Linked DNA regions of Homo sapiens. The protein of the gene in region 1 purifies or fractionates together with the protein of each later gene. This does not show direct contact. Each region holds a gene or a part of one and is shown in the gene's direction. Other genes may lie near its edges.

Region 1 (5,241 bases):
TAAGAAATAAAAATATAGCTGATTATTACTTGGAAAAAGCAGCATAAATAGTAAATTATAAAGCAGAGTTTTCATACTGTGGTACAGTTTTTAATTGGGAATACTGATTTGCTTATACAAAGATACGTGTTTATATATATCTTGATTTTATCGTATGTATTTTAAAGTTAAGATGACATAACTTCTGTGATCATAATATTAGTAAATAACAAAGACAGTTATATTTAATTAAGATCTGTAGGTAACACCTTATAGGATGATATTATTCAAGGCAACTGAAGTTTTAAGTAAGGAACTGTAGAAGAACATAATAAATATTCTTTATTGTCTATGTTATTTTATTTGTGGGTTGAACATCTAAGTTCTTCCTAGCTTTGTAGCAGTTTATGTAGCAAATGATAGGATGTAGTTAAAGTCAGAAGTTTTAGAACTTGTATCAGTCTCGTTTGTAAACACAGCATTAGCAAGCATGCTGTGGTTTTAAAGATGACATAGTGGTCAAATTAGCTCTTTCACTTTTTAGTACTAAAATTAAGAAAATGAAAACTCACAGATATATTTTCTGTTATGTAACCCGTTTACTAGTTGCCATTTTGGGGCTCTTTAATGTGGGGAAAAGGTAGATTGTGATTTTATTGCTTTTAAAGCTGCTCCATTAATTTTTTTCTAGTTTTTGTCAACACTGTGAATTTCATAGAACATCAGTTTATGTCCTGAAATATGTTTTCAGAAAATAGAAAGCCAAGTATATTTCGTAAGTGTGCTGAATGATTTTTGTTTATAATTAAGATTTTTGTATATGAATGTGAATACGAATACAGATATCTATATTTTTGTTTGTGCTTGCAAATACAGAAATAAAAGCCCTTCAGGTATGTTATAGTGTTCCTTTTACAACCTTACAAAGAGAATAATAGTAGTGTGAATTTTAAGAAAATGAAACTATCGCTTGTCTTCTGATGTCACCGTATAATAAAGCCATCATTATACCCTCATGTGGATATCCTAGACAAGAGGTTCTACATGTGGTCCCTTGATAATTGCCTAAATTAAAATATTAAAGGCCTAACAGCCGCTGTGTTGACCTTTTTCTGCCTTGCTGCAGACAGATGAGCTGCTGTTTATTAGGAAGGCTTCTTCCCACAGGTGGAAGGCTACGTGAGCTTCCGCTCTTCTCTTCCCACCCCTTTACAATGTTGGGCATCAAAGTCCTGCTGTTCCAGCAGCTTTGATTCAGTTCCTCCATCCTCAAGACCCCTAGGATGTGCCTGACAGTCTGAAGTATTTTGATTAGCTTTTAAATACTTCAGATTCCAAAACTTCTTTCTAATAATTTAATAAATGTTCTGTCCTCAGTAACTGCTCATTTTTAAAGTTTTGCATGGCTAACCTCCGTGCCTTGCTGCTGGTATCAAACTGGGAAATGAAAACAAGAATCAGTGATGTACTAACTCACTCGTTGGCTGGTTAACAGCAATCAGCCTCTTCAAAAGAATATTTTGAACTTGTGCTATCCCCCTACCCCCCACCCCAAGAAAATCACAAAATCAGAACTCTAATTGGGGCTTTACAAAGCAAAGCCATAGGAAAAGCTGTGTAAACATGAAAGCCTCAGGGGAGCAACAGTAACAGAAAAATAGTGTTTTACAGTTGAGAGGGTGAGGCAGAAAAGGAAAGTGTTACAGACATGAAAGGCCCAGGCCCACATTCCTATGGAGCTGAGGACCAGGCTTGACGAGGGGCCTCACTGGTGGGCTCAGAAGGGTCTGGCAGGGAGTGCAGTTAGCAAGGGCATCGTCCATGCCATGCTTCAGCTGGAAGACACCATCAGAGAGCCACAGCATCCTGGCATAGTGATGTAGGAAGTCTTCATTTTTTATTTTTTATTTTTGCTGTTTTTTAGTTTCGTCATTCAGTGGCAGAACAAAAAATGTGTTGCATTACATATTAACGGATCAAGATTTTAGATTGTTTTCCTATTTTCCAGAAGTTGAAATGTTATTTGAGATTGAAATTCTCTATCCATTTTCTCCATGGAAATGAAATTGGTGGTTACAAAAAAATATCTACACAATATGAATTACTTTTCTTTTTTTCTTTTTTTCTCCCAGGTCCGAGTGGACAGTGGCATCCAACCAGGAAGTGATATTAGCATTTATTATGATCCTATGATTTCAAAAGTTAGTTTAATTTCTCAATGGATTATTTGATTTCTTCGAAAAATCAATGATATTTAAAGAGTCTGAAACTGGGCCTTTATCTGAATCATAAGCTATAATTAAACAACTAATTATGCACTGATGTAAATGTGAAAGCAGAGCAGGTTTTTTCTCTTGAGAGAAAATTCAGCGTTATGTTAGTTTGTAGTACTCCTCCTCCCCAACTAAATCATGCCACACCATCACACACATGCATGAACAATAATAATAATAAACATCTAACCAGTGGTGCCAGCCTAACTCATTGCCATGAGAAGGAATTAAGGTTTTTTTTGGCCATTGGCAGAAATTACCTGAGATGGAAGTATGAATGAATGGCAAGAGTTGGGCTGATAGGCAGTGTTTGTTAGAGTACTTTTTGATCTTTTCTCTTCAGTTTTTACAAATTACCAATTATTTAAGTAGATGTGATGTAAGAGTATAAGATTTGTTTTGCCCACCTGTCTTTTTGAAGTTTGACTTTCCAGAATAAATGAATTGAATTTTTGGATCTTTAAACCCTTAAAACCGTATAAAGTGTAAAATGCTGTAATAATTAAGATTGTGGATTTTATTTTTATTTTATTATTATTTTTTTGAGATGGAGTCTCGCTCTGTCCGCCAGCCTGGAGTGCAGTGGCACGATCTTGGCTCACTGCAACCTCCGCCTCCCAGGTTCAAGCGATTCTCCTGCCTCAGCCTCCTGAGTAGCTGGGTGGCTCGTGCCACCAAGCCCAGCTAATTTTTTTTGTTTTTAGTAGAGATGGGGTTTCACCTTGTTAGCCAGGATGGTCTCCATCTCCTGACCTCGTGATCCGCCCGCCTCGGCCTCCCAAAGTTCTGGGATTACAGGCGTGAGCCACAATGGCCGGCCAGATTGTGGATTTTATTTTGAAAATTCTGTGTTCTCTGAAATGATACATCTGTATTGAGGAATGATTTGTTTTTCAAGCCTTGTTTCTCAAGATGGCTTTTCCCCAAGTGTCCTTTTTAATGTTATAGTTGCAGTAAACAAACACTTTTTTATCTGTCTTTCTTCAGTTAGGGTTTTAGTGCTTTTTTTTGGGATAGGGTCTCCCTTTTTCACCCAGGCTGGAGTGCAGTATCATGATCTTGGCTCAGTGCAGCCTTGACCTCCCAGGCTCAAGCGATCCACCTGCCTTAGCCACCCAAGTAGCTGGGACTACAGGTGTGTACTACCATGCAGGGCTATTTTTTTATATCTTTTGTAGAAATGGGGCTTCCTCATGTTACCCAGGCTGATCTCGAATACCTGAGCTCAAGCAATCCACCCGCCTCGGCCTCTCAAAGTGCTGGGATTACAAACGTGAGCCACCGTGGTTGGCCTAAGTTATTAGTAGTATTAAAATAAAATTTAGGTCTTTTGTTTATTAGAGAACCACCATTTAATTTAAAAATAAAACTATGTAAAAATATTATACGTTGATTTTTAAATATTCCATTTTTAGATGAATGTTTTTCTCTTCAGAAAAATGGCCTACAAATTAATTTTCAAATTTGCTTGATATTGAAGAGCTAGTAAAACCTACTAAAATAATCACAATCTATAGATTGGCTAATATAACTGCCAGAAAAATCTTTAATGAATAGTTAAGGTCTTATTTCATTGCCAAATTATAGAGATACATATAAGTAGGCACTAAATCATGTAGAATAGTAAGACTTTTCTGTTTTTTTGATTTCTGAAAAAGTACCATTTGCTTCTGTGTATATTATATGTAAAACTGCAAATGATTTCTAAGATAGTCGTCTTCTTTCTTTATACTTTTATTTTTGAAACTTTACTTTTTTTGTTAGTTATGAAAGTGTTAAGGGCTGGACGCAGTGGCTCATATCTGTAATCCCAGCACTTTGGGAGGCTGAGGTAGGTGGATCACCTAAGGTCAGGAGTGTGAGACCAGCCAGGCCAACATGGCAAAACCCTGTCTCTACTAAAAATACAAAAAAATTAGCTGGGCGTGGTGACACACGCCTGAAATCCCAGCTTCTCGAGAGGCTGAGGCGAGAGGATCGCTTGAACCTGTGAGGCGGAGGTTGCAGTGAGCTGAGATTGCGCCACTGCCCTCCAGCCTGGGCAATAGAGCGAGACTCCATCTCAAAAATAAAAAATAAAAAGAAAGGAAAGTGTTAGCTATTCAGGGTATCAAACTTGGAAACCACAGAAAAATAGGGAAAAAATGTCTTATCTAATCCTCACCACTACCCTTGGTGTTCAAATCCTATCTCATATATTCACGTTTAGCTGTATCTCCTTTTAAATTTTTTCTGTACTTACTTTTGTTACGTTTTTGTTTTTGTAAAATCACTCTTTACTATGATAATGAAATGTAGGAGAAGAGTCTGAAATAGCTTGATTCTAATATTTATATACTTAAAAAATCATAATTGACATGTATTGAAAACTGAACTATCATAAAATTTCGAGATATATTTAGAAATCTGTTATGAAATATTTTAATTTTTACTAAAATGAATCATTTAACATAGTTCTAAATATATATATATATTGGGTTTTTTGTTTGCTTGTTTTTAGCTAATCACATATGGCTCTGATAGAACTGAGGCACTGAAGAGAATGGCAGATGCACTGGATAACTATGTTATTCGAGGTAAAAACAAAGATTTGCACTCGTTGGTTATTGTATATGGTGTCCAGTTCCAGAGAACAGCCTGGGGGTTTACCAATGAGAATATGGCACAGCACATTTGCTCACTATGTGCTTAAAGAGAAATAAGAAAAACTCAAATCCATCAAACCACCATACCAAGTATAGCCGTTTCCACTGTTTTAAGCAAATGCATATTTTCTCTATATGCCTAACATATATATTACTCTATATAACCAGTACACATTGGTTACACAGGCCTTCAGGAGGGCGTCTTTTTTCTTACAGAAGTAATATTGCTGTGGAGAGGTCTTTAGTGCGTATTTGGGACACACGTTCAGTTTATGTGAGTTTATCTATGTTTATCTATATATGCGAGTTTAGATAGACATAAATAAGTTACTTGGGAAGATTAT
Region 2 (5,241 bases), on another chromosome or scaffold:
AGTGAGACCTTGTCTCAAAATGAATAAATAAATAATTTTAAAATCGTCACATGTGGCTAGTAAGTACCATATTGGACATGACAGCATTAACGCTGATTCTCTTGTAGCCATTTATTTCAAGGAAATTATTAGAAATATACACAAATGTATATACATAGATGTGTTGCAGCATCATTCATAATTTTGGAAAGCTAGACAATGTTAAACAGGGTATTTGTAGTATAGTAAATTTATTTGGTCTTTGTCCCTGGTTCCTGTTACAGAGCCACTAGAACCCTTGGAATTTTCTGATAGTGTAGTGTATTTTTTTGTTATTCTTAATGTACCCCTTTTGATAACACCTGAGTTCATCCTAATGAGATAACTTTTAGGATCTGGCCTATCTATAGCCTAAGGAAGGATGGGGCCAGTCACCAAAAAGACTAAGTGATTAGAGTTTTAGAGGGTTGGAACTTTTGGCACCACCTACCAAAATCCAGGAAAGGAGGAGGGCAAGTGCTGGAGATTAAGCTCCATTAAAGCTTTTTTCTTCTTGTGTTTTGAGCCAAGTCTCGCTCTGTTGCCCAGGCTGGAGTGCAGAGGTGCGATCATAGTTCACTGGAGGCTTCAACCTCCTGGGCTCAAGCAATCCTCCTACATCAATGTCCCAAGTGGCTGGGACCACAGGCGCCTTCCACCACACCTTGCTAAATTTTTTTGTGTTTGAAATGAAGTCTTACTATGTTGCCCAGGCTGGTCTCGAACTCCTGGACTCAAGCAATATTCCCATCTCAGCTTCCCACAGTGCTAGGATTACAGGTGTGAGCTGCTGCGCCTGGCCTATAAAAACTCTTGAACTAGAAATCTGATGAGCTTCCAGGTTGATGAGCACATGGAAGTGTTAAGAGGGTAGCACCCAGAGAGGGCGTGGCAGCTCTGCACCCCTTCTCCCTCTACCTTTCCCTGTGTGTCTCTTCACCTGGCTGTTCTATATCATTCATAATGTCCTTTGTAATAAACTACTAAGTGTAAGTAAAGTGTTTCCCAGAGTTCTGTGAGCCATTCTAGCAAATTATTGAACCCACAGAGAGGGTGGTAAGAACCCTGTGCTAACCATTCAGTCGGAATCATAGGTCACAACCTGGGACTTGTGATTAGTGTCTGAAGTGGGGCCAGGCTTATGAGACTAAACTCTTAACCTGTGGGATCAGACACTGTCTACCTGGAGATAGTGACAGAACTGAATTGAATTATAGGACACTCCGTTGGTGTCCATTGGAGAATTGTTTAGTGTGGAAAACACTCTCATCTGGTGTCAGACCTATTGGGAGGGTATAGTAGGAGAGAAAAATGTGTTCTTCCCAGAGTATTACTTAAATTTTGTTGTTATATTTATGTAGTATACAATGCAGTTGTTAAAGGTAAATCTTGGCCGGGTGCAGTGGCTCATGCCTATAATCCCAGCACTTTGGGAGGCCAAGGTGGGCAGACCACTCAAGACCAGGAATTCAAGACCAGCCTGGCCAACATGGTGAAACCCCATCTCTACTAAAAATACAAAAATTAGCCAGGTATGGCGGTGCACACCTATAGTCCCAGCTACTTAGAAGGCTGAGGCACGAGAATTGCTTGAACCTAGGAGGCGGAGGTTGCAGAGAGCCGAGATCACGCCACTGCACTCCAGCCTGGGTGACAGAATGAGACTCTGTCTCAATAAATAAATAAATAATTTAAAAAATTTTTTTAAAAAGATGAATCGTAGGTATTGACCTGGGAAGCTGCCTGTAATATAATGTCAAATTAATTAATCAGGTTATACAACAGTGATGATTTCTTTTAAGGCTATGTGAAAATATGTTTATACATACAAATTTGAAGGATATACACCAAAGTATAAGCAGTAAGTAACTTTGAGAGGTATGATTATTAGGGAATTTTAATTTATATGTAATGCAATTTTGTAATATTTGCTTTTTTTTTCAGTAAGCCTGTATTACATTATTCCATTTTAAGAATATAAATAAATAAAAATTGATTACTTTACAACCAAACTGTGTGCCCTACCACAAAAGCACATGAAGCTGACCCCTGATGATTTGGGAAAGAAGTGCTATTCCGTACAGGGTCTATGTAGTATTAAAGGTTTCTTGTTGGACACAACCAAATAATAGTAGCCAAAGTCTGTTAATCAAGCTAACTTCACTTGTCCTGTGGCTGGGAAGATAATTCACGCTCAAGTGTAGTGTCACTTCTCAGCAGGACTCATAAATCAAGAATAATTGAGGAGGAAAGCAGTTAAGATTTGGTAAAAACAGGAAAAGCTCTCAGAGAGTATAGTGTATTCGTGTGTTTATTTCAGCAGTAAATCTTAACTATTTGTGAAAGCTTAAATGTAGATATAACTACCCACAGGAATGGAATTTTAGCTAACATTTGAGATGTACTAGGTATGTGAAGCAAATAACTGGTTCTGAGAGGCTTGGCTAAGGTGAAGGACAAATGTAGCAGCAGAAGAGAATTGCAATAATAACATTATGATACAAAAATTCTATCTTAGTGTGTTGGAGCTGCTATAACAAAATACCTTAGACTGGATAACTTATAAATAATAGAAATTTATTGCTCATAATTCTGGAGGCTGAGAAGTCCAAGATCAAGGTGCCAGCAATTTTAGTGTCTGGTGAGGGCCTCTTCCTTACAGATGGCACCATTTGTGTCCCTACATGGCAGCAGGGGCAGGGCAGCTCCCTTCAACCTCTTTTATTAGGACACTAATCCATTCATGAGGTTGGAACCCTTATGACTTAATCACATCCCAAAAGGACGCACCTCTTAATACCAACACAATGGGGATTATTTCAACATGAATTTTGGAGGGACACATTCAGACCATAGCAAGTGTTTATAGTATTAGGACCTATGGCACATACTGCAGAATGCTAGTATTGATTCCATAAGAAAATCGCCTTTTATGGACTGCTTGTCACAGTGCAGTTTCTTAGGTCTCATGTGTAAATTTCCTAGGTAATTCATATGCACATGCTGAGGCTTGAGGACCACTGTCACAGGTTTTGCACAATCTTCCTTCATTAAATAGCTGTTGAATGAATAGCATCTTTTTCTCCCCCATGAGAGCCAATAATTGGCCTTATAAGTTACAGAAATTTTTTTCTCACATTTATTCAAGTAATATTTACATTTCTTCCACCCACTAGACATTGTTTGAGGCCCTGAGGGATACAGTGGTGAACAAGACAGGGTTTCTGTTCTCTCATTGGAGAATTAGGACAAAATGTTAACATGAAGGATGGGTTGGGTTGGAAGGATGGTGCTATGGTTTGAATGTTTTCCTCCAAAATTCATGTTGAACTTAATCCTCAATGTGTAGTATTAAGAGGTGGAGCCTTTAGAAGGTGATTAGAAGAATTAGTATCCTTATAAAGTATACCAATAAAAGACTTGAGGGAACCTGTTGGGCCCTTCTACTCCCCTTCCACAAAGTGAGGATGCAGAAAGAAGGCACCATATTGAAGCAAAGAACAAGCCCCTTACCAGACGCGAAATCTGCTGGTGCCTTGATCTTGGAATTTCCAGCCCCTAGAGCTGTGCAAAATAAATTTCTATTATTTATAAATTACTGAGTCTGTTATTTTGTTATAGCAACCTGACTAAGACAGGTGGAGAGGACTGCTTTAGATTGGCTGGTCAGGAAAGCCTCTCTGGAGAGGTGGCCTCTCAACAGAGACTTAGGGGAGGGTGGCACTGGGAGCAGCCAAATGTGTGACCGTCTGAGAGGGAAGCATTGCAGACAAAGAGAGCAGTTGAATAAAGCCCTAAAGTAACAACAAGTTTGGTGTTTTGGCATGTTCAAGGAATGGAAGAGCCGATGGCTGAAGCATGATGATTAAGGAAGAGAGTGGGCTGATAGTAGGCAAGGGTCTGATTATGGAATAGTTCCTAAGCCGTAGTAAAGAACTTGAAGTTTTTTCCAAGTGCAGAAGGAAACAGATGGATAATTTTAAGCCAGGGAGAGACGGAAGTTATTTACATTTTAATAAGAGAATTCAGTTCTTATACAGAGAATGGAGGGGTATGAGGATGGAGGAGGGACATGAATAGAACATTTGAGCCCAATTAGGCTCTAATGCAGTAGCCCAGTGAAGATGATAGTAGCTTGAACTGTGGATCTGAAGAGAAGTGTATGATTTTGGGATATATTTCAGAGGTAAAGCAGACCACACATTGCAGTGGATTCGATTGGCGGGATGGAGTGAGACGTTAGAATGATTCCTTGTCTTCAGCTACTGGATGGATGGTGTGGCCTTTATTAATATGAAGAAGATGAAGGAACTTTGAACTTATCCAGGTTCTGGTGATTTAATTCTTTCCTGCAAACAAACATTTTTTATTTGTAAGCCAAAATGCAGATTTAGTCATTTCAATGGGTTTGCTCCCTTTCACTAGTGGTTTGCAAATGGTATTCATTTACATGTACACATAAGGGATCCAAAAGTCTGTTGCTTGGTGAACATGGATTCAGAATGCCTGGTATCTGGGATTTTAAAACATTAGGCTCTGAAAGTTTTAAGGATTATTCTTTAAGGTCATTTTCTCTTTAGGAACCATTATCAAAGCTTAGAAGTTTCAGTTTAGAACAGATGTTATATTTCAGTCTCTTCCCTCTGTCATTTTTCCTAAATTCCACATTACTTAATCTTTTGGATTTCCATGTTTCTGCCACCCTATTGCACCATTTTCATAATCTAATTAATGTTGTGGCTGTGGATGTGTTTGCAGGGAATACTCTCGATTGCTTCCAAAAAGTTCTCAGTAACTTCTTCCATAGTGGCCTGCATAGTCCTGTTAACGTCATGAGCAACCTTTCTGATTTTGTTGTTTCCCTTTTCTTTCATTCTTTTTTTTTTTTTTTTTTTTTTTGAGATGGATATTCCCTCTCTGTTGCCCAAGCTGGAGTGCAGCGGTGCGATCTCTGCTCACTGCAACCTCCGCCTCCCGGATTCAAGCGATTCTCTCTCTGCCTCCCGAGTAGCTGGGGCTACAGGCGTGTGCCACCACACCCAGCTAATTTTTGTATTTTTACTAGAGACTGGGTTTCACCATATTGGCCAGGCTGGTCTCGAACTCACATCATGATCCACCCACCTCGGCCTCCCAAAGTTCTGGGATTATAGGCATGAGCCACTGTGCCCTGCCTCCTGCCTCCCTTTTCTTTCATTTCTTGTTTTCTTTTTGTTGTTGTTG
Region 3 (5,241 bases), on another chromosome or scaffold:
TGTTCCCAGCCGCCATCCCCGACTTGGCTCCCACCTCCTGCTGGGCTGCCCCCGGCAATGCTCCTCCCTGGGCTTTTCCGCCCCCTTCCTCTGGCCTGGCTCCCTGAACCCCACCCTTTCTCCTGTGGTTCCAGCACCTTCAAACACCTGTGGAAGCAGGTGGCCCAGAACCTGGACCGGTTCCACACCTTCCCACGCCTGGCTGGAGGTAAGGCCTGCCTCACCTCCTCCTCCCGTGTGGCCCCAGGGACCCCTCCCCTGGCCATTATGAAAGAGGAGGGAGGTAGAGGGGATCCAGCCACAAGTCAGGTGGATGAACCATTTCAGGCACCAGCACTGCCCAGTAGAACTTTTTGTGATGAGGGATGCGTCCAGTACCTTCACTCTCCAATATGCAGCCACCAGCCACACATGGCCATGGAGCCCTTGAAGGGTGGCCTGTGCGACTGAGGAACTGCATTATCTAGTTTTCTTTCATTTTAATTAAGTTAAATCTTAGTAGCCAGTCGTGGCTGGTGGCTGCCGTGTCGGGCATTGCAGCTGTAAGCGGAGGCAAGTGCAAATGCAGAGACCAGAAGTGGGAATGAACTTGTATTTGAAGAAACAAAGCAAGGCCCATGAGTAGGGAGGGAGGAGGGCTGGTAGGAGAAGACGGGCTGAGACGTAGGCAGGGCTGGACCTTGTTGGCATATTAAAGTTTTCCCACAAAGAAACAGTTTCATGGTCAAGGAAATTTGGCATGTGTGGTGTTAAAGCAAAATGGACTCCTCCCGTGCAGAACTTCTCAGAGCCTTGAATGCTCTAATACGCATGGCACATCTTCAAGGACAAGGTCTGCCATGTAGTGTTTCCCACACGCATTGGGCCATGGAACCCCGTTTCTGCAAAGACCCCCATGGACCAAGTGTTTTGTGGAGCACATTTTGGGAATGTGCTGAGGCCTAGAGGGAGGGAGAGTTGCAGCCAGCACGTGACCAGCAGAGCTGGGACCGGTGGTCCAGCATGTTTCTCTGTGGCGTGAATTGGGGCCCACTGGGGAGTCTGGACCCTGTTCCTGGACTGGTGGGAGTTCGGATGGGGGTGTCAGGGAAGGTGAGCGCTCCTCAGGGTCAGCTGTGTGGCTTTCTGCTCTCAGAGCCTCCTTCCCTGCCTCCCTGAGGGAGAGAGGCCGCTGGTTACCACTTTCCAACCTGGAGCAGGTGACTTCATCTCTCTGTGCCTCAGTTTTCTTGGCTTGAAATTGGGGATAGTAATGGGAGGTTGTTGTGAGGCTTTGGTCAGACAAAGCACAGCGTACTTCGTCCAGAGTTGGGCAGCTGTTAAGTGCTTTCAGCTGCTGTTAGCTGCTGCTTCCCACGGAGGGAGGAAACTGAGGCCGGGAGAGTGAAGTGACCTGTCTGAAGCTCCCTCCCACTGGGGAAATGGGGGAGCGGTTTCCAGCACGCGTGGGGAGGAGGGGCCCAACCCTGGCAGCCGACATAGGGTAGGCTCCAATGTCCCTCGTGGACGAGGGCTCAGGAGAACCTCACAAAAAGCTGTGCCCACTTCTGGGAATGGCTGGCTCTCGGGGGCCTTGGGTTCTCATCTGTCCTCTGCTGTTGTGTTGGGTAGTTTCAGTTTTCCCATCAGTGTAATGGGGCTGTTGGACCTGATCACCTCTGATGCCCTTCACCCCTCCCTGGGCCTCAGTTTCCTCATCTGTGGAGTGGGAGAATGGGCCTGGCCCGTGGGTCTCTGGGATGTTGGCCAGCGCTCACTCTGAGCCTCCGCCCGCTCTGGGCTGCTCCGTGCTCGTGTTGGTCCCGGGCCATGGATGGCGTAGGTGGTGTTTTGGGCCCCTGGGCAACCGGGGGAGCCAGCTCCTCTGGTCATTTCCCCACCCCCGACCCCTGTAGAGTGCGGCGGAAAGAACTTCCACTTCGTGCACCGCTCGGCCGACGTGGAGAGCGTGGTGAGCGGGACCCTCCGCTCAGCCTTCGAGTACGGTGGCCAGAAGTGTTCCGCGTGCTCGCGTCTCTACGTGCCGCACTCGCTGTGGCCGCAGATCAAAGGGCGGCTGCTGGAGGAGCACAGTCGGATCAAAGTGGGCGACGTGAGTGGCACCGTCACCCCCGCCGCGGCCCAGCGGGGGGCTGATGGGATTGGGTCCCTGGGAGGCTCCTCTGCAGCCGGGGCTGGGGTGTGCGGGGAGGGGTCTCCCTTGGTCTCGGCCTGCAGTGACTCGTCTCTTCTGGCGCCTCCCTTGCCTCCAGCCTGCAGAGGATTTTGGGACCTTCTTCTCTGCAGTGATTGATGCCAAGGTACGGGGTGGGAAGTGGGCGTTCCTGGGTGGGGGCAAGCCCTGGAGTGGGTGGAAGAGGGAGGAAGAGATACAGGGTACCCTGACCCAGGGCATGACCCAGCCCCACTGCTTTGATCAAGGCAGCTCAGCAGCCACACACGCACCTCCAGCTTCAGAAAGGGCAGAATCAGCCGTAGCCAGACAAGAGCTCATCTTGCGGCCACCCTGGAACCAGGCTCAGCGAGCTCCTAATAGCATTTGCATGAGTGCATGTACACGTGTGTTTGTGAATGTGTTCATATAGGGCTCCGTGTGGCTCCACATGTAGGTCTTTCCATATAAACACGTACATATCCATTTGCACATAAGCACACACACGCATATGTCGATAAGTCCACCCACACGCATGTACATGGAGAAGGCATGCAGATCCCTACATGCTTAGACATGTGACCATGCATATGCCTATATATGCATTGATTGATGTGTGTCTGTGTTTATATGCGAGTGCACCTGTAGTACTAACACACGTACACTTGTGTGTGTACACACACACACACACACAGTGTTCATGTCTGTCCTTGTCTCTGCTGTGGCTCAGCCAGACCCTGGCTTTTGCCCTTGGCGTCCCCTACCCCTGCCCCTGTTTCAGGAGTTGGGCCCTTCAGGTGCAGGTGTTTCGGGGTGAGTGTGTTGTGGGGGCTGCCGCAGGGATGCCTTCCCAGCCTCTTAGACCTCCCTCCTCCCTGCCCACCCCAGTCCTTTGCCCGTATCAAGAAGTGGCTGGAGCACGCACGCTCCTCACCCAGCCTCACCATCCTGGCCGGGGGCAAGTGTGATGACTCCGTGGGCTACTTTGTGGAGCCCTGCATCGTGGAGAGCAAGGACCCTCAGGAGCCCATCATGAAGGAGGTGACTGGGGTGGGCAGCCTGGGGTCCAGAGGAGGACAATCCCACCGGAGCACAGCACACACACAGTTCTCCTGGAGACATTCTCCCATTTCACAGATGAGGCCCTAAAGGGAGACCCTAAAAGGGAATGCCTCCGACCGGGAGAGAGTAGAGCCAGGTTTTGAGCTCAGGCTGCCTAACTCCAAATCCGGGGCTGTGTCCTTGACCCTGGCTGGGGTCTGAGCATTTCCAGTGCCCTCAGCAACCACGTCCACTGCAGCCATCATAATGGCTGACACTGATAGACTTTTACTGTGGGGCCAGCTGTGGCTGAGCACTTGGCTGAGATGACGTGGGTGTTACTGTTCCCATTTTACAGATGAGAAACTGAGGTCAAGGCACTTGCCCAAGTTGGTAGTGCAGGGCTGGAGTGTGCCTGAGAAGATCTTCCCCCCAGCCCCTTGGTGGCAGAGGGAACCATGAACCCTTCTGGAGGGAATGGTATCTCTGGGCAACTCTCATGCCAGCTGCTGCTGGAAGCCTCTGGGACCTGGACCCTTAGTTCTCCGGGTGTGGGTTTGGCAGGGAGAGCCAGAAAATGTTTGCATCTTTTGCCGGCTTGTGGTGGGATGGACAGGACAGGGAGCTGGGCACGTTGCTGTCCTGGAGGGAACCCAGGAGGAGGCGACACCTGACCCTTCTTGCAGACACTGAAGTGTAAACTGAGGCCCAGGGACTGGGGAGAGGGTGAGCCAGAGCAGGGGCACTGGGAGGGCTCAGGGCCCTGGTCCCTGGTCCCGTGGAGGGTCTGACGCCGGGGCCTCTCTCCTAGGAGATCTTCGGGCCTGTACTGTCTGTGTACGTCTACCCGGATGACAAGTACAAGGAGACGCTGCAGCTGGTTGACAGCACCACCAGCTATGGCCTCACGGGGGCAGTGTTCTCCCAGGATAAGTGAGTGGCCAGGCCGCAGCCCTGGTGCTGTGCTCCGGGTGTCCTGTCCGTGTCCCCATCCCCACCTCCTGGACGTGGTTCCCAGTAATAATGCTGCCCCTACCTTCTCTCTGTCCCCTCCCCTCAGCCCAGACAGGCAGCCAGGGCTCGCCACATGGGCCCACAGCAGCAGGCTCTTTGTTGCCGGTACTGGTGGTGCCGGTGCCAGGGTGCCACTGGGGACCAGTGGATCTGAACCTCTAGGGGCAGGGCTAGGAATTGGTGTCTTCGACTGGCTCTGCGGGATCTGGTGTTGCCCCACTGAGTGAGGTGATTGTCCCATGCTACAAAGCAGGGCAGGCCAGGGGCTGCAGAGGCAGGATTCGAACCTGGGTCACATGAGGCTAAACTTGAGGCTTCGCCTCTTCTTTCCTCCGTGGCACTGGTTGCCCCCATGTCTGCCTCTATGAGAAAGTGGAGGTGAGCTTGGAGAGGGAGGAAGGGTGTGGGCCTGGGAGCTGGAGTTTCCGCTGCTCCTGAGGGACAGGAACATTGGACCAGGACAGGCCACTCCCTTCAACTTCGCAGTAGCCCTGTAACGAGGCGTGCCAAGCCCCTCCCCAGAGGAGGAAGCTGGGCTCAGAGACTGGGTAACCTGACCGAAGGCCCACAGCCAACAGCTGGCAGCATCCCTCATCCCTGACTCGGCCTCCTGTTGAACCTGGAAAGCCAGTGTGGGCTGGAGCAGGGGTGTTGAGGCTGGAGCTGGGGCTGGAGGGGAGATGAGCTGGTTGCTCTGTCACCACTGCTCTGCTTTGTAGGGACGTCGTGCAGGAGGCCACAAAGGTGCTGAGGAATGCTGCCGGCAACTTCTACATCAACGACAAGTCCACTGGCTCGATAGTGGGCCAGCAGCCCTTTGGGGGGGCCCGAGCCTCTGGTGAGTGGGTCCCCCTTCCCACAGGGGAGCTGAGTTCCTGGTGGGAGACCCTAGATGTTACGTCTCGAGGGGCTTCAGAGTAATAGGAAGGATACCATTTACTGAGCACTTATTGTGGGCCAAGCAAGTGCACTAGCTCAGGGTCCTTTCAGCAAACTCGTGAGCAAAGGGACTATTCTTCCCATTTTACAGAGGA
Region 4 (5,241 bases), on another chromosome or scaffold:
TGGAACAGTGCATGACTGCATAATGAAGGCTCAGAAAGTGTTATCTCTAATAATGATAATTATATTGTATTATACTATTATAACATATAACCGAGTAATGTATGTAATAATTAGATATAATGCAGATTTATAATATAGTATAACGGTATAGCTTTAGCATTATGTATTTCAGTTATAATACCTAAATATAACAATGCGTATTATAATAATGCTAGTTGTGTTTATTCATTCAGTCATTCTGCACCCATATTCATTTGTTTGTATTCTTGCTCACTCATTCATTTGTTCCCTTGACCTCTCAGCCACTTTTTCTCTTCTCATCTTTGTTCTTCCACTCTTGCCTATTCTGGTCCCTGCGAGCACACAGATAAATTAGGACGTGGTCTCAAAATTTGATTACAGACCATACATTAGATAATTGTATCAGTATTAAATTTCCTGGGTGTGTGTCTTAGTCGTTTTGTGCTACTATAACAGAATACCACAGACTGAGGAATTTGTAAAGAAGAGAAATTTATTTCTCACAGTTTTGGAGACTGGGAAGTCCAAGATCAAGGTGCTGGCAGGTTGTGTGTCTAGTGAGGGCTTTCTTGCTGCATCCTCACATGACAGAAGAGCAGAAGAGAGTGAACCCACACCCTCAACCTCTTTATAAGAGCCCAAATCCGCTGGGCACGGTGGCTCATGCCTGTAGTCCCAGCACTTTGGGAGGCTGAGGCAGGCGGATCACCTGAAGTCAGGAGTTCGAGACCATCCTGGCCAACATGGTGAAACCCTGTCTCTACTAAAAAAAATACAAAAATTAGCCGGGTGTAGTGGCACATGCCTATAATCCCAGCTACTCGGGAGGCTGAGGCATGAGAATCGCTTGAACCCGAAAAGCAGAGGTTGCAGTGAGCCAAGATCTTGCCACTGCACTCCAGCCTGGGTGACAGAGCGAGACTTCATCTCAAAAAAAAAAAAAAAAAGAGGCTGAGCACGGTGGCTCACGCCTGTAATCCCAGCAGTTTAGGAGGCCGAGGCGGGCAGATCACAAGGTCAGGAGATCGAGACCACCCTGGCTAACACGGTGAAACCCTGTCTTTACTAAAAATACAAAAAAATAGCCGGGCGTGGTGGCGGGTGCCTGTAGTCCCAGCTACTCGGGAGGCTGAGGCAGGAGAATGGCATGAACCCGGGAGGCGGAGCTTGCAGTGAGCCAAGATCGCACCACTGCACTCCAGCCTGGGCAACAGAGCAAGACTCCATCTCAAAAAATAAATAAAATAAAAAATAAAAAAAGAGCCCTAATCCCATCTGTGAGAGCTCTACCCTCAGGACTTAATCACCTCTTAAAGGCCCCCACCTCTTAATATGATCACATTGGTAATTAAATTGCAACACATGAATTTGGAAGGACACATTCAAACCATAGCAGTGTGGTAGTGGTATCATATCTATTGAAGGAAAATATCCTTGTTCTTGGGAAAGACACAGTTAAGTATGAAGGGGTAAAATGTCATGATGTCTGCAAATAAGTTGGCAAAAATAATGTGTTTATATACAGAGAGAGTGAGATAAAGCAAATGTGGCCCAAAAAAATGTTAATAGAGGATCTAGATGAAGTATGTATGGGTGTTCAGTGTATTCTTTTAACTTTATTGTAGGTTCAAAATTGTTTTAAATAGTTGTGGAGTGGAAGATGTGGTTCCCAGCCTCAGGAAACTCATGTGCCCATTTGGGATGAGTCGAGCACTTTATTGATGTCATAATAACATATAACTAGCTAATGTGTAGTGAACACTTAGGGCCATTCTGTGCACATAATATTTTTTCACTGAATTGTCAAAATAATCCTATAGAGTAGGGACAATCATTTTCCCCATATTATAGATGAGGAAACTGAGGCTCAGAGAGGTGACAGGACTCGTCCCAGTTATACAGACAGTAAGTTGAAGAGCAAGATTTGAACTCAGGCAGTGGCTGAACTGGCTCCAGAGTCCTTGTTCTTAACCATTTAACTCTACAACATTTTGGACTTGTTAAAATTGGCAGCTTTGCAAAAGAGAGACAGAGGAGAGAGAGAAACAAGAGTCAGAGGGAAAGATAGTGACAGAGATGGGCAGGAAGCCAAATAGGAAAAGCCAGGTAGCCAGACACACAGGAACCTCTGCCACTGAGTAGCCATATGTGCTTATGTCAGTCACTTAATTCCCTGGGCCTTGTTTTCCTCACCTGTTAAAGAGACACAGTAGCACTATTTCAGGAAAAAAATCAAATCTGCATGGCTACGAAACATGTGGAGAAAACCCCAAGTGCATGAGAACTGGGACGAATGCCAGTAAAGCAGAGAGACAGACAGAAAGACACCCAGTAGTCTGGCAGGAATACATCTTTAAAAGGTTATCTTTTTAGGCCAGGCGCCGTGGCTCACGCCTGTAATCCCAGCACTTTGGGAGGCCGAGGCGGGTGGATCACCTGAGGTCAGGAGTTCGAGACCAGCCTGGCCAAACATGGCGAAACCCTGTCTCTACTAAAAATACAGAAATTAGCCGGGCGTGGTGGTAGGCGCCTGTAATCCCAGCTACTCGGGAGACTGAGGCAGGAGAATTGCTTGAGCCTGGGAGGCGGAGGTTGCAATGATCCGAGCTCGTGCCACCGCACTCCAGCCTGAGTGACAGAACTAGACTCCATCTCAAAAAAAAAAAAAAAAAAGCCCTCTGTCTTATTTACCAAATTCCTGCACAACATCGGTCTGTTTCTGAATTCCTGATTCTCTTACGTTGATCTATTTATTAAATTATAAGCCAATTCTATGTTGTTTTAATCATTGTAGTAGTTTGTTTTCTGTTTGTTTGTTTGGTTTTGAGGGTTTTTTTTTTGTTTTTTTTTTGAGACAGGGTCTCACTCTGTCATCCTTGCTGGAGTGCAGTGGCCCAATCTCAGCTCACTGCAGCCTCCACCTCCCAGGCTCAAGCAATTGTCCCACGTCAGCCTCCTGAGTAGCTGGGCCTATAGGCACATGCCCCCATGCCCAGCTAATTTTTGTATTTTTTGTAGAGACAGGGTTTCGCCGTGTTGCCCAGGCTGGTCTTGAACTCCTGGACTCAAGCAGTCTGCCCGCCTCAGCCTCCCAAAGTGCTGGGATTACAAGCAAGAGCCACCGCACCCAGCCTTAATCATTATAGTTTTATGATATGTTTTCATGTTTTCCTTTTTAAAAAATTTTCTTGAATATTCTTGTTCACTTACTGTTCTTTTTATTTAATAAATCAGCTTATTATTCCATTAAAATCCTGACGGGAATTTGATTGGAGTCATATTTTTAAGAGAAACTAATCTTTCATTACCCAGTAAATACATTCTTATTAAAAATAAAAGCATTTTAAATAATGCTGAAGTCTCCTGGGAACGCTATGCCTAATCTCAATCCCCTACCCTACCCTTTTTGCCCCGAGGGAATCGGTTTGATGTGTAACTTTGCATGTCCTTTACTTATTTACACTCCCTACACACACATTTATCCACATATGTGAGTATATTCATATTTGCGTGTCTGTACACATAAACGGTATGTGTTTAACATAAGGTATTCTACACATTAATATGTAAGTGTCCAATATATGGAGCTATCATTAGACATATTAATGGCATTCTCATGATCATTTTCATGGCTGTGAAAGCAACAGACATGTTGGGACTGTTTGGATGGCCCAGTCCCTCTTTCTGGGAAAAAGCCAGTTTCTGTCACCTCTACAGTTGGGAGATTACAAAGCCTAGACCTTTGACCAATTTGTACTTTTCCGATATGAATCTTTTTTCTTTTTGAGACTCTCTTTGTCACCAAGGCTGGAATGCAGTGACGCAAATATGGCCCACTGCAGCCTTGACCTCAAGCTCTCCTCCTGCCTCAGGCTTTCAAGTAGCTGGGACTACAGGTGTGCACCACCATGCCCAGCTAATTTTTGTATTTTTTGTAGAGACATGGTTTTGCCATGTTGGCCAGGCTGGTCTCGAACTTCTGACCTCAAGTGATCCACCCACCTCGGCCTCTCAAAGTGTTTGGATTACAGGCGGGAGCCACCGTGCCCAGCCCCCAACCTCCTTTCTATCATAGGTACTGCAAATATTTTTCCCAGTTGATCTTTTGTTTTTTGGCTTTGCTTACGGGATGGATCTGTTTTGTCCTATCAAAATTAAACATTTGATTGCACGCCTACACAGATATCTATCTTTTTCTTTATGATTTCTGAGTTTCTCCTTTTTATTGCAGGTGGAGGGACAGAGTTTCACTCTCATTGCCCAGGCTGGAGTGCGATGGCGCGATCTCGGCTCACTGCAACCTCCGCCTCCTGGGTTCAAGTGATTCTCCTGCCTCAGCCTCCCAAGTAGCTGGGATTACAGGCATGTGCCACTACACCTGGCTACTTTTGTATTTTTAGTAGAGATGGAGTTTCACCATGTTGGTCAGGCTGGTATCGAATTCCTGATCTCAAGTGATCCACCTGCCTGGGCCTCCCAAAGTGGTGGGATTACAGGCATGAGCCACTGTGCCTGGCTGAGTTTCTCCTATTACTTTGGAACATGTTCCCCATCCATAAGCTTATACAAATATTCTATATTTTCTTCTACTATGCTTATTGTTTTCTTTTTTACATATAAATCTTTTCTCTGTCAGCATTGTGATAAGCAGACCTAGCTTTAAAAAAATCAAGATAGTCAATTATGCCAGCATCATTTTTTTTAATTTAATTTTTTTTTTTGAGACGAAGTTTTACTCTTATCGCCCAGGCAGGAGTGCAGTTGCACAATCTCAGCTCACTGCAGCCGCCGTCTCCTGGGTTCAAGCAATTCTCCTGACTCAGCCTCCCAAATAGCTGGGATTACAGGTGCCCGCCACCATGCCTAGCTAATTTTTGTATTTTTAGTAGAGATGAGGTTTTGCCATGTTGGCCAGGTTGGTGTCGAACTTATGACCTCAGGTGATCCACCCACTTCAGCCTCCCAAAGTGCTGAGATTACAGGCATGAGCCACTGCGCCCGGCCTGCCAGCATCATTTATTAAATAATCACCTTTTCTGCAGTGATTCGAAATGCCACGTTTGTCACATATTCAGTTTCCATATATACAAGCTTGGATTTATTTCTGGGCTTTCTATTGCATTCTACCAATGGGCTCTATTTGTCTACTGCTGTGCTAACACCATGTTATTTTTATGACAGTGGTTTTGTGGTCAAATTTTTTTTTTTTTTTGAGATGGA

Evidence for each region.
Region 2: the proteins of PCCA (region 1) and TTC1 purify together in Homo sapiens (affinity purification with mass spectrometry; 2 studies listed by BioGRID and IntAct, with this or other methods). This does not show direct contact.
Region 3: the proteins of PCCA (region 1) and ALDH4A1 purify together in Homo sapiens (co-immunoprecipitation; one large-scale study listed by IntAct). This does not show direct contact.
Region 4: the proteins of PCCA (region 1) and TBC1D25 purify together in Homo sapiens (affinity purification with mass spectrometry; one large-scale study listed by BioGRID and IntAct). This does not show direct contact.

Annotation. Positions count from the first base shown.
Region 1 is NC_000013.11:100,305,081-100,310,321, forward strand, and holds part of PCCA (propionyl-CoA carboxylase alpha chain, mitochondrial isoform a precursor), read left to right. Parts: intron 1-670; exon of another isoform or gene 671-754; intron 755-2,111; coding exon 2,112-2,180; intron 2,181-4,752; coding exon 4,753-4,828; intron 4,829-5,241. UniProt on the Homo sapiens protein: This is one of the 2 subunits of the biotin-dependent propionyl-CoA carboxylase (PCC), a mitochondrial enzyme involved in the catabolism of odd chain fatty acids, branched-chain amino acids isoleucine, threonine, methionine, and valine and other metabolites.
Region 2 is NC_000005.10:160,014,687-160,019,927, forward strand, and holds part of TTC1 (tetratricopeptide repeat protein 1), read left to right. Parts: exon of another isoform or gene 1-4,345; intron 4,346-5,241.
Region 3 is NC_000001.11:18,874,267-18,879,507, reverse strand, and holds part of ALDH4A1 (delta-1-pyrroline-5-carboxylate dehydrogenase, mitochondrial isoform a precursor), read left to right. Parts: intron 1-134; coding exon 135-208; intron 209-1,895; coding exon 1,896-2,092; intron 2,093-2,252; coding exon 2,253-2,300; intron 2,301-3,040; coding exon 3,041-3,193; intron 3,194-4,004; coding exon 4,005-4,126; intron 4,127-4,926; coding exon 4,927-5,045; intron 5,046-5,241. UniProt on the Homo sapiens protein: Irreversible conversion of delta-1-pyrroline-5-carboxylate (P5C), derived either from proline or ornithine, to glutamate. This is a necessary step in the pathway interconnecting the urea and tricarboxylic acid cycles.
Region 4 is NC_000023.11:48,545,262-48,550,502, forward strand, and holds part of TBC1D25 (TBC1 domain family member 25), read left to right. Parts: intron 1-4,252; exon of another isoform or gene 4,253-4,383; intron 4,384-5,241. UniProt on the Homo sapiens protein: Acts as a GTPase-activating protein specific for RAB33B. Involved in the regulation of autophagosome maturation, the process in which autophagosomes fuse with endosomes and lysosomes.